3 linked regions of the Homo sapiens genome follow. The protein of the gene in region 2 purifies or fractionates together with the protein of the main gene of each other region. This does not show direct contact. Each region holds a gene or a part of one and is shown on either strand. Other genes may lie near its edges. The genes, in order: ZDHHC9, TMEM184C and TMEM248.

Region 1 (3,654 bases), on a different chromosome or scaffold from region 2:
CTATTTCCTTTTTGTTTGTTTTTTGTTTTTGTTTTATGTGCAGTCGACTCTTGAACAATGCAGTTTTGTACTGCATGGGCCCACTTAATAATGAGGGTTTTTTTTTTCCAATAAATACAGTATCAGTGTGTTCCTCATCTGCAACCAAATGCGGATCCAAAATACAGTCGTCCCTAAGTATCCTTGGGGGATTGGTTTCAGGGATTGCCCTTGAATACCAAACCCCATGCATTCTCAAGTCCTGCAGTGGCCCTGTGGAACCCATGGATATGAAGTCAGCCCTCTGTATCCGTCTCCAGGAGTTTCATATTTTGTGAATACCGTATTTTTGATCTAGGTTTAGTTGTGGATGCAGAACCTGTTGATACGGAGGGCCAACTGTATTTATTGAAACAAATCCATGTACAAGTGGACGCACGCAGTTCTAACCTGAGTTGTTCAAGGTTCAAATGTACAGTATTCACAAGATGCAAAACCTGTGTACATGAGGGGCAACTTTTCTTATCCGTGGGTTCTGCAGGGCTGCTGAATGACTTGAGTATGGGTGGATTTTGGTGTCTGCCTGTAATGCTTACCACAATCAAATGAACATATTCATCACCACACATAGTTACCATTGTGTGTGCATGTGTGTGTGTGGTGAGGACACTTAAGATTACTCTCTTAGCAAATTTCAAGTAACTTTTGACTATTATTTTCTTGACGAAGTATTTGTATTTTCCTATTGATTTCTAAGAACTTTTCATATAGTCAGGTACAACTTTACATAGATTGCCATTGTTTTTTTTTCTTTAGTCTTCTTTATGGTAATTTTAACATACACAAAATATTTTTTAAATTTTTAATTTTTTGTTGGTATATAGTAGGTATATATATTTATGGTGTACATGAGAAGTTTTGATACAGGCATGCAATGTGTAATAATCACATCATTGATCACCAAGGAAATGCAAATCAAAACCACAAAGTACTTTTTTAAAGTTTATGGAGTCAAATCTATTTTTCCTTGTCATCTGTTTTCTTCCAGTACTTTTATGCTTAGAAAGTCCTTCTGCATATAGAGGACAAATAAACATTTATTCTTTATAGTTATTTTATGGATTCACTTTGTTTTTACATTTAGTTCTTTAATTCATCTGGAATTTACTATGACAAGTAGTATGAAGACAAAAAAATCGATCCTTATTTTGCACCAAATAGCCAATTGTCACGTAATTGTTTATGGAATAATACTTCCTTTTACCTCTGATTTTGTAATGCTGAGTTTATTAGACAACAAAATCTTATATATTCTAAGATCTGTTTCTGGGCTCTTTCCATTCCATTGAACTATGCCATACCATTTTAAATATTGTAGTTTTACATTTTTCCTTGGCTATTTTGACCTGTTTATTCTTCTTGAACTTAGTAGGCCCACCGATTAAGATTTTATTTGGAAAAGCAGTGTCTCTGCTTTTAATGAGCTGAGTGAGGCAAATCACTTAACCTCTCCATGCCTTTGTTTCTTCATCTGTAAAGTGGGGAAAAGAGTATCTCCTTTTGCCCAAGTTCCAGGGAAATTGTGAGGATCAAATGAGATGGTTATGAAAACATTTTGAAAAAGTAAAAAAAAAAAAAAACCCTATATTTTTTACAACTGAAATAGACAATGATCCTGGAGGTCTTTGAATTAGGTATTATAGGGATGGTGGGGTTGATTTTTGTTCTGGAGGCTTTTGGCTTTGGACTCTCTCTTTCTCCCACAGAGCGCTTCGACCATCACTGCCCCTGGGTGGGGAATTGTGTTGGAAAGAGGAACTACCGCTACTTCTACCTCTTCATCCTTTCTCTCTCCCTCCTCACAATCTATGTCTTCGCCTTCAACATCGTCTATGTGGCCCTCAGTGAGTATACAGGGCAGTGTCCGTTGTTGGAGTGGGGCTGGGTGGGGGAAGAGTTAAGGGCAGCTTAGAGGGTTGTTGGGTTTCCTGGTGGTACCATTGTGAAAGGTACTTTAGGACAGGTTAGAAATGAGCACAGTTATCTGCTCTTGAGCAGGGTTGCAAACCTCAGTGCACATCAATGAGTATTAATCAGTGTGTTGGCCTTCTCTTTGGCCAACTGCTGGGCACTGGGGCCATAATTACTGGTCTGTATCCAGAGTACTGGGGCATTTCTGAGGTAATCCCAAAGGCTGGGGATGTATTTTGTCTCGGAGCATCCTCTCTTCTTCTGCCTTGTAAAACTTGCCTTGTGCTAAGGGGTAGAAAAGGGTAAGGGTTTTGCCTGAGAAATGTCTTTTTGTAGCTCATGGTCTAGTTTGGGAGATAGAAAGCACACCCACATATGTACATGTGCACAAACATACACACCCACACACACGCCAATCTAAGAGCAGATGTGATGTGGAGTTAAGGGAGTGGTCTTAAGACAGCTTTCTGGAAAGAGAAGAGTTCTGAGCTGGATTTTGAACAAGGGAGGGACACGTATTGGCAAGGAGAGAGGATTTTTCTTGGGTATTTCTGATTTCTTTTATCTGTTAATATCCCCCTAACATGTCCATAGTTGGGGGCTAGGGAAAAGGGAAGGGAGCCTGCTGCTCTTCTGCCTGCCTGTCTAGTCCAGGGCCTGGTCCTGCACTGGAAATGTGAACTCTTTAGTCATGAGACTACCAGCTAGGAGATGAGGCTCTTCACCCTTGCCCGAGTGAGAGCTTAGCTCTTGCCAGTGTGTAACACGGGAGAGGGAGGGAAGGAAGTGAGTAGGCACTAGGATAGTGTGTAGTTTTGACTGAAGTCACTAATTTTTCTCTCTACTCTTCCATCCAATTTCACAGAATCTTTGAAAATTGGCTTCTTGGAGACATTGAAAGAAACTCCTGGAACATATCCTCCGCTGGCAGTATGTCCCTGTGAAGCCTTCTTAAGCTACTTTCCAGCATGCTTTTTCCCCACAGTTCTCCCACTATCTAGTTTTTCAGATATCAGAGAGTGCCAAGGTCTAAAATAATTTAAAAAAATATAGTCTTAGTGGTAGCAACCAGAATGGAAGATGACCGGGACTAAAAGGGAGGTCTTTCCTTCACCCCCTGCTCAGGACAGTGGCTGCATTTCTGCAAAGGGGGTTCAGATGAGATTTCTATAAATCACATCCTCTTTTTTTTCCCCCACCAGTTCTTCATTTATGAATTTTCTTTTTTTGAGACAGAGTCTTGTACTGTTGCCCCAGCTCGCCTCCTGGGTTCAAATGATTCTCCTGCCTCAGCCTCCCGAGTAGCTTGGACTACAGATGCCCGCCACCACGCCCAGCTAATTTTTTGTATTTTTAATAGAGACGGGGGTTTCACCATGTTGGCCAGGCTGTTCTCGAACTCCTGACCTTGTGATCCGCCCACCTTGGCCTCCCAAAGTGCCGGGATTACATGAATTTTGTTTTTTGACAGAATTTCCATTGGCAGTGATGGCCAACATTGTTTAGCTTTGGCCCCTCCCATGCATCCCCTTCCAAGAGCCAATGATGGGTAAATAGGCACACCCTTAAATACCCTAGATACGCTAGAAATTCTTTCATAAGGGATCTATCCAGTAAGTTCAGAATTCATCTATTGTTATATATGGAAACATGGCTTTTTGTGATATACGTTCCAGGAGGTAAAGATGGTCTGACTGGTGCTCT
Region 2 (3,654 bases):
GAGGCTTTAGCTTATTACCTAGTCTATCCTATGTAACTAAAGTAACCCATTAAACAAGTACAATTTCAATAAAATTGTGACTATGAAATCTGAATGTAAAGAATCAAACAATTTTTCCTGAGAGCGGTGTATTAGTTCAGCTAGATTTATTTTTTAAAATGAACAAGACTTACTAACTTTTTAGAAATCTGTAATAACCTAGTGTAGTGCTGAATAACAATAAACATTTTCCTGAAAGTTCACTATTCCCTATTAAAATCATATAAAATGCAAATTCAAAGTATTTTAGAATATGAAACCAGTAAAGAAAGAAAGAATAAAGTGATTCATGGTGTCCAATCATCCTTTTTACACATAAGCCAGTTTTTAAATAACTGTCATGAACTAATTATAAAATTTTATTGCCTAATGTTTTTTCCACTTAAAATACATAACTTCTATATGTTTCATCAGGCTTATTTTTAGTAACTGCCTAATATTTTGGCCAATGGAAAGACCACAGTGCATTCAACTAGTCCCTAACATTGGGTTTTGGATTGCTTTCAGCCTTTTGTTATTTACAAGTAATGGGCTTTATATACAAAGATACTTTAGGCAAACATACTTTTGAACACTTCTTTAGAATACATTCCCAGAAACAGAATTACTGGTTCCAAAGAGGATGAACATGTGGGAAAACTTTAGCTACATGGACATTTAATTTTTATTATAAAGCTCTAATACCAACCATGCATACCACTGCATCTAAATTATTTTGCTGACAGCATTAGTCAAAGAATTTAAATAAAATGCACATTTTTTTAAGCTTGTAAGATCAAATAGGACATTACATCATAGGTCTTTGGAACATACAGTTTCTAGAACATCATCCATTTTTTTAAACTTGGCATTCTCAATTTTCCTTTAACTTCAAATATATGATAACAGAGAATTTTATTCTCACATTTTTATTCAAACCCTGTACCATCAAATACCAATTTGATATTTTCTCTTCTGAATATGTTCAGTATATGTGGGCGTGTGTGTGTATTTTTTTTTTTATGTAGCACTGTGCTTTTATTTATGACATACTCATACAGCTATGCAATGAGCAACAGAAATAAATGAACAAACATGGTCAACATGTGAGGGTATAAGTTGCCAAATAATAAACAAAGATGTTATTATATCTTTATATATGTATTAAGATATATATTAAATTTTTTTCAAGTCTTTCTATAAATTAAATTTCAGATTTAATTTATAGGAAGATTAAAAAGAAGCAAGCCTTATCCTAAGAAGAAACTTTGTCTAAAGAAATTTAGTTATAGATACGAATTTAGTACAGTTTAAGAAAAGTGAACATTTTACTTACCAACTGTGACATGTTGTTTATTATAACCAAATAAGTCCAAGCATTTGAAAAGCTAAAGTTCCCTTCGTCATATATACCAAGCAGCTCACAGATTCTAAAAATAGTAAAAATGAGATATCTCTGATTAAATCAAAATCGTACTTCAAAATACAGCAATAGCAATACTTAAATTTAGAAGTCAGTTTATTTGAGATCTCACTGACAATCACTTGACTTTGGACACAGAGAATTTAGAAGTCAGTTTATTTGAGAGATCCATTGACAATCACTTGACTTTGGATCTAGAGGTGGTTCAAAAATGAAAAACCCATTTTTTTCTAGAAATATTACTATATTCCTTCAACTTGAAGGAAATCCCAAATAAGACACATAACACTTAACTAGAAAGAGTACTAAATTTAAAAAAAAACAACTATGCTGTCTAATTTTGGGAAAGCTTGATTGTTAAACATAATATAATGCAGGTGTATATAACTGTAGTTGTTAATTTTTTCCCCTCAATTGTCTTGGAGGTAAATTTTATGAAGACCCAGATCCCCTCAAGTAAGTATGACCATCAGTATTGTTATAATCTTACCCAATTTCTAAGCTGCAGGGAAATAAAGCATGCCTTCATAATTAAATGGCTAAATAATTGCTAGCTCAAAGGCAGAATAAAGAATTCTTTCACAAGTCTTTCTTTCCACTTTTCCTCTGTGAGCATGCAAAATGTTAGTAACAACTAGGAGATAAAACATGTAATCTATTGGCATTAAAGTATTTGATGTTCTTGAATTTTTAGGGAATAGTTTTGCCAGGTAGCTTAATGATACCCCATTTTACCTCAATTCTAAGCCTTGATAGAATATATTAAAAGAAAATATGACTTCTTTCTTAGAGTACTTCTAATATATTCTAAATTAACTATGTAGAAAATAGAACTGTAATTAACCTAAAGTAGCATACTTTAACTTCATGCAATAGGGTTTCTGTCAAGCTATGTATCTGAAAAAGAAGGTATTTTTTTTTCAAAGTGCTTTACGGCCAGCTAGCTCTGGAGAGGATGTGAATATTTAGGAGACCCCTGTGGTGACTCTTTGCCTATAAATGGTCATGTTATTTATTTTAATAGAGTGAGTTTCTATACAGTGTTTTTTTTTACAACAGACTAGACCTGCATTATAAATAAGCACATTAACACTATGTTTTCTACTTAGTTGTTCCCACATAAGATCACAAGGATGAAAAAAAAAGTTCATATAAAATCCGAGTACTTACAAAGCAACGATGGTGGTGAAAGGTCTGACAACTGTGTACTGTAATACACCTAGTTTGCACCTAAACAGCAATACTCTGCAAAAGAAAAAGAACTTAGAATTTCAACTACTCATTTAAATAGCATCAGATTTTCCCCAAAGCCTCCAAATTAAAATCACTTTGATGAATGATACCATATTTACAGTTAATTCTTTCAATGTAGTCATCCTTAATAGCAGTGGCAGAAGAATGTGGATGGCAGGAAACAAATTATCTAAATACCTTTTTTATTTTTTGAGATATAGGATCTTATTCTGTTGCCCAGGGTGGAGTGCAGTGGTGTGAACATGGCTTACTGCAGCCTTGACCTTCTGTGCTCAAGTGATCCTCCCACCTCAGCCTCCTGAGTAGCTGGAACTATATCTGCATACCACCACACCTGGCTAATTTATTTTCTGTAGACATGGGGTCTCACTATGTTGCCCAGGCTACTCTTGACCTCCTGGGCTCAAGTAATCCTCCCACCTCAGCCTCCTGAGTAGCTGGAACTGTATCTGCATACCACCACACCTGGCTAATTTATTTTCTGTAGACATGGGGTCTCACTATGTTGCCCAGGCTACTCTTGACCTCCTGGGCTCAAGTGATCCTCCCACCTCAGCCTCCTGAGTAGCTGGAACTATATCTGCATACCACCACACCTGGCTAATTTATTTTCTATAGACATGGGAGTCTCACTATGTTGCCCAGGCTACTCTTGACCTCCTGGGCTCAAGTGATCCTCCTGAGTAGCTGGGACTGTAGGTGTGTGCCCCCACACCCAGCTATTTTTAAATTTTCTGTAGAGATGTGGTTTCACTGTGTTGCCCAGGCTAGTCTCAAACTCCTGGGCTCAAGCCATCCTCACGCCTGTAATCCCAGCACTGTGGGAGGCCGAGGCAGGTGGATCACTTGAGAGCAGCCTGGCCAACATGGCAAAACTCTGTCTCTACAAAAAAAATAACAAAATTTAGCCGGGCACGCCTGTAATCCCAGCTACTTGGGAGGCTGAGGCATGAGAATTG
Region 3 (3,654 bases), on a different chromosome or scaffold from region 2:
ATCCGACATTTCTCAAATTCAGTAATGAGTGCCCATCCCACCCAGCTCACCCCCCAACACCTCAAAAGGAAACAAAAGAATCATAGCTTTCCTGTTGGCAAGTCAGTCCTTGAAGCTTCTGATTCATTTCTTTCAGGTGGAGCTGATCAGAATAATGTTCAGCATCAACCCCCTGGAGAACCTGAAGGTGTACATCAGCAGTCGGCCTCCCCTGGTGGTCTTCATGATCAGCGTAAGCGCCATGGCCATAGCTTTCCTGACCCTGGGCTACTTCTTCAAAATCAAGGAGATTAAATCCCCAGAAATGGCAGAGGTATAGTATGCTCTGACTTCTCCCGGGCTGGCTGGTCCTTGTGCAGTGGGGCAACACCCTGTGGCTTGCCATATAGCTTTCTTGGGTTTTGGCCTTTCTCTCCTAGTGAGAAAAATCAGTATTTATTCAGAATTTTCTGTTTTCCATCTCCCCAGGACTCACTTTGTTAGGAAATACCTAGATGGGTATTGTTCGATTTAAATATGCTACCAGTTTCAGTTAGACTATTTTAGCAGTGAAACATGCACTTTGGAGAGTACATTTGTAAAATGATCTGTGTCAAAAAGCTGGAGACCTCACCTCTGTAATATTCCATCTCAAATGGGTTCATTGCTGTTTTAGAAAACTGAACATTTGGTATTTTAAAACCACATATCATCATGGAGTTTTATCAGCTATACTAATGGTTTTTTTCATGAGATAAGAAGGAATCCTAAAGAAATTCAAAAACAGGACCTAATTTCCAAATATATTTGTTTTTTGTTTTTTGAGACGGAGTCTCGCTCCGTCACCTAGTCTGGAGTGCAGTGGCGTACTCTCAGCTCACTGCAACTTCCACCTCCCGGGCTCAAGCGATTCTCCTGCCTCAGCCTCCTGAGTAGCTGGGATTACAGGTGCCTGCCACCACGTCTGGCTAATTTTTGTCTTTTTAGTAGAGACGGGGTTTCGCCACGTTGGCCAGGCTGGTCTCGAACTCCTGACCTCAGGTGATCCACCCATCTCGGCCTCCCCAAGTGCTGGGATTACCGGTGTGAGCCACCGCATCCAGCCTAATTCCTGTCTTTTAGTAGATTCCTTGGGTGCCTTCTCTTATTCTATTTCCTTCTTCTTGGGTTTGTTGGTGGGTGGAGGTGGGGGTGGGAGTGGGGCTGGGAGTGCGTGGTTGCCGCATTGAGTGTGCCTTGCAATGGAGAGGAGAGTTGTGTTCCATGTAATTGAGATCGTAGCTTTCTCTCATGCTCTAGGGCATTCTAGATCTTAAGTGATCTTGGCAAAAGGAACCGCCTACACATGTGAGCTCTTTCTAGCACAGTTCAAGTAACGAGTTTTAGCTATTTCTACCATGTAACCCTTTCAAAGAGTTTATTACTAAGAGACATACTGGCTGGCTTAATTCTCTCTCTTTTCTGACCCTGCCTCAATCTTTAAAGGTTGTGAAAACAGGCTGCCCCCACATCAGGGCTGAAAATGAATATTCTACTCAAAACTAAAGCTGCACAGCCTCCTGCCATTTCTTTCCCGCAGAGCTTGAGTCCATGTTGAGCACTTGGCCAAGGCCAGTGGTTGCACTGAAGCCTGGATAATTAGCCCTTAATAATCCAAATTAGGCCTGGCATTGGCTTTAGCCAGCTGTTCAACGTGGACTCCAGCTCTGTAGGAACGCATTGTTGAGATGCTGCGGAACTTTGGTTATGATTAGTTTCGTGATTTTTGTTTTCAAATGAGGATCCTAGGTTGTAGGAAAGGCAGTGGTGTATGGGAAACATTTGGGGCTGTGAATCAGAACTTAATGCTGATTTTACCTTGAACTAGAATTGGAGAGTCCCTAATTTGCCCTGGGCCTCAGTTTCTTCATGTCTAGGATTATGAAGGACTGAGACTAGAATGTTCATTTTCAACCCTAATGTACTAGAATGGTCAGTTGAGTTTGTAGGTGTTAGGGAAAATGTAATTTGATAGATCCAGTTGCAGTCTTACTAAATGTCACATACAGTTAAACTGATGCTGTAAGGGTAGACTTACTGGGCTGGGTAGGGGTTGCTCAGATGACTTTTTTTTTTTTTTGAGGTGGAGTGTCACTCTGACACCCAGGCTGAGGCTGGACTTCAGTGGCGCGATCTTGGCTCACTTCAGCCTCTGCCCCCCTTCAAACGATTTTCGTGCCTCAGCCTTCCAAGTAGCTGGGATTACAGGCATGCGCCACCATGTCCAGCTAATTTTTGTATTTTTAGTAGAGACAAGGTTTCACCATGTTATCCATGCTGGTCTCGAACTCCTGGCCTCAAGTGATCCACCCTGCTTGGCCTCCCAAAGTGCTGGGATTACAGGCGTGAACTACCGTACCTGGCCTCAGATGGCTTTTTTTTTTTTTTTTTTTGAGACAGAGTCTCACTGTGTCGCCCAGGGTGGAGTGCAGTGGCACGATCTCCTCTCACTGCAACCTCCACCTCCCAGGTTCAAGCGATTCTCCTGCCTCAGCCTCCCAAGTAGGTGGGATTACAGGCACACACCACCACACCCGGCTAATTATTGTATTTTTAGTAGAGACGTGGTTTCACCATGTTGCTCAGGCTGGTCTCGAACTCCTGACCTCAAATGATCCACCCACCTTGGCCTCCCAAAGTGCTGGGATTACAGGTGCGAGCCACCGTACCTGGCCCCTTCCTTTTTGAAATCGTTGCTGCTCTAAGGTGTCATCAAAAGTCCATAAGAAGGGGGGCAGTGTCCCAAATGAGTATTAGTATTCACTGCTGTTTTGTGTTCTAGAGAAAGAGAGCAAGGTGTATGGAATTGACCTTTTGGGACATTATTTTAAGGTGACTTTATTTAAAGAAAAGAATTGTAGTTGCAAAATGAGTTTGGATTAATGCTTTTCTTCAAGCGTTCTTTTCAAGTTTGGTTCTGAGGCTAGATCATTTTCTCTAAGTGTAATATGCTGGATTTTTTAAAAAGATTTTCTTGAATAAATTGATTTGATTTCACAGTTTATTGAGTATCTTGTGCCAGTGAAGAGTTCATATTTTAGGTTGTGAATATAAAAGTGATTAGGAAAGCCACATCATGCTGCCTGTGAAGAGGGTGGTGGCCGAGTTGTCATGATCTTAAATGATCAGCTCTGAATTGTAGTTTGCTGATGTGCTGCGGTGCCACACTGGGGTCTTACCTGTATTCCCGCAGTGGGAGACAGGCGCTGCTTAACACCCATTTCTCTTTCTTTCACTTTCCCAAAGGATTGGAATACTTTTCTGCTACGGTTCAATGATTTGGACTTGTGTGTATCAGAGAATGAAACCCTCAAGCATCTCACAAACGACACCACAACTCCGGAAAGTACAATGACCAGCGGGCAGGCCCGAGCTTCCACCCAGTCCCCCCAGGCCCTGGAGGACTCGGGCCCGGTGAATATCTCAGTCTCAATCACCCTAACCCTGGACCCACTGAAACCCTTCGGAGGGTATTCCCGCAACGTCACCCATCTGTACTCAACCATCTTAGGGCATCAGATTGGACTTTCAGGTATGCAGTAGCCACTCTCCACTCAGGCTCCTTAGGCAACCACTGTTACAAAAAGAGGATGCACCGTGTATGTTTTTACTGACTATATTGTACTAGATTGTAGT

What was found.
Region 1: the proteins of TMEM184C (region 2) and ZDHHC9 fractionate together in Homo sapiens (co-fractionation; one large-scale study listed by BioGRID). This does not show direct contact.
Region 3: the proteins of TMEM184C (region 2) and TMEM248 fractionate together in Homo sapiens (co-fractionation; one large-scale study listed by BioGRID). This does not show direct contact.

What each region holds. Positions count from the first base shown.
Region 1 is NC_000023.11:129,812,887-129,816,540, reverse strand, and holds part of ZDHHC9 (palmitoyltransferase ZDHHC9), read left to right. Parts: intron 1-1,745; coding exon 1,746-1,883; intron 1,884-2,815; coding exon 2,816-2,864; coding exon of another isoform or gene 2,865-2,880; intron 2,881-3,626; coding exon of another isoform or gene 3,627-3,644; exon of another isoform or gene 3,645-3,654. UniProt on the Homo sapiens protein: Palmitoyltransferase that catalyzes the addition of palmitate onto various protein substrates, such as ADRB2, GSDMD, HRAS, NRAS and CGAS. The ZDHHC9-GOLGA7 complex is a palmitoyltransferase specific for HRAS and NRAS.
Region 2 is NC_000004.12:147,627,393-147,631,046, reverse strand, and holds part of TMEM184C (transmembrane protein 184C), read right to left. Parts: intron 2,687-3,654; coding exon 2,612-2,686; intron 1,449-2,611; coding exon 1,355-1,448; intron 1-1,354. UniProt on the Homo sapiens protein: Possible tumor suppressor which may play a role in cell growth.
Region 3 is NC_000007.14:66,941,712-66,945,365, forward strand, and holds part of TMEM248 (transmembrane protein 248), read left to right. Parts: intron 1-136; coding exon of another isoform or gene 137-154; coding exon 155-313; intron 314-3,264; coding exon 3,265-3,550; intron 3,551-3,654.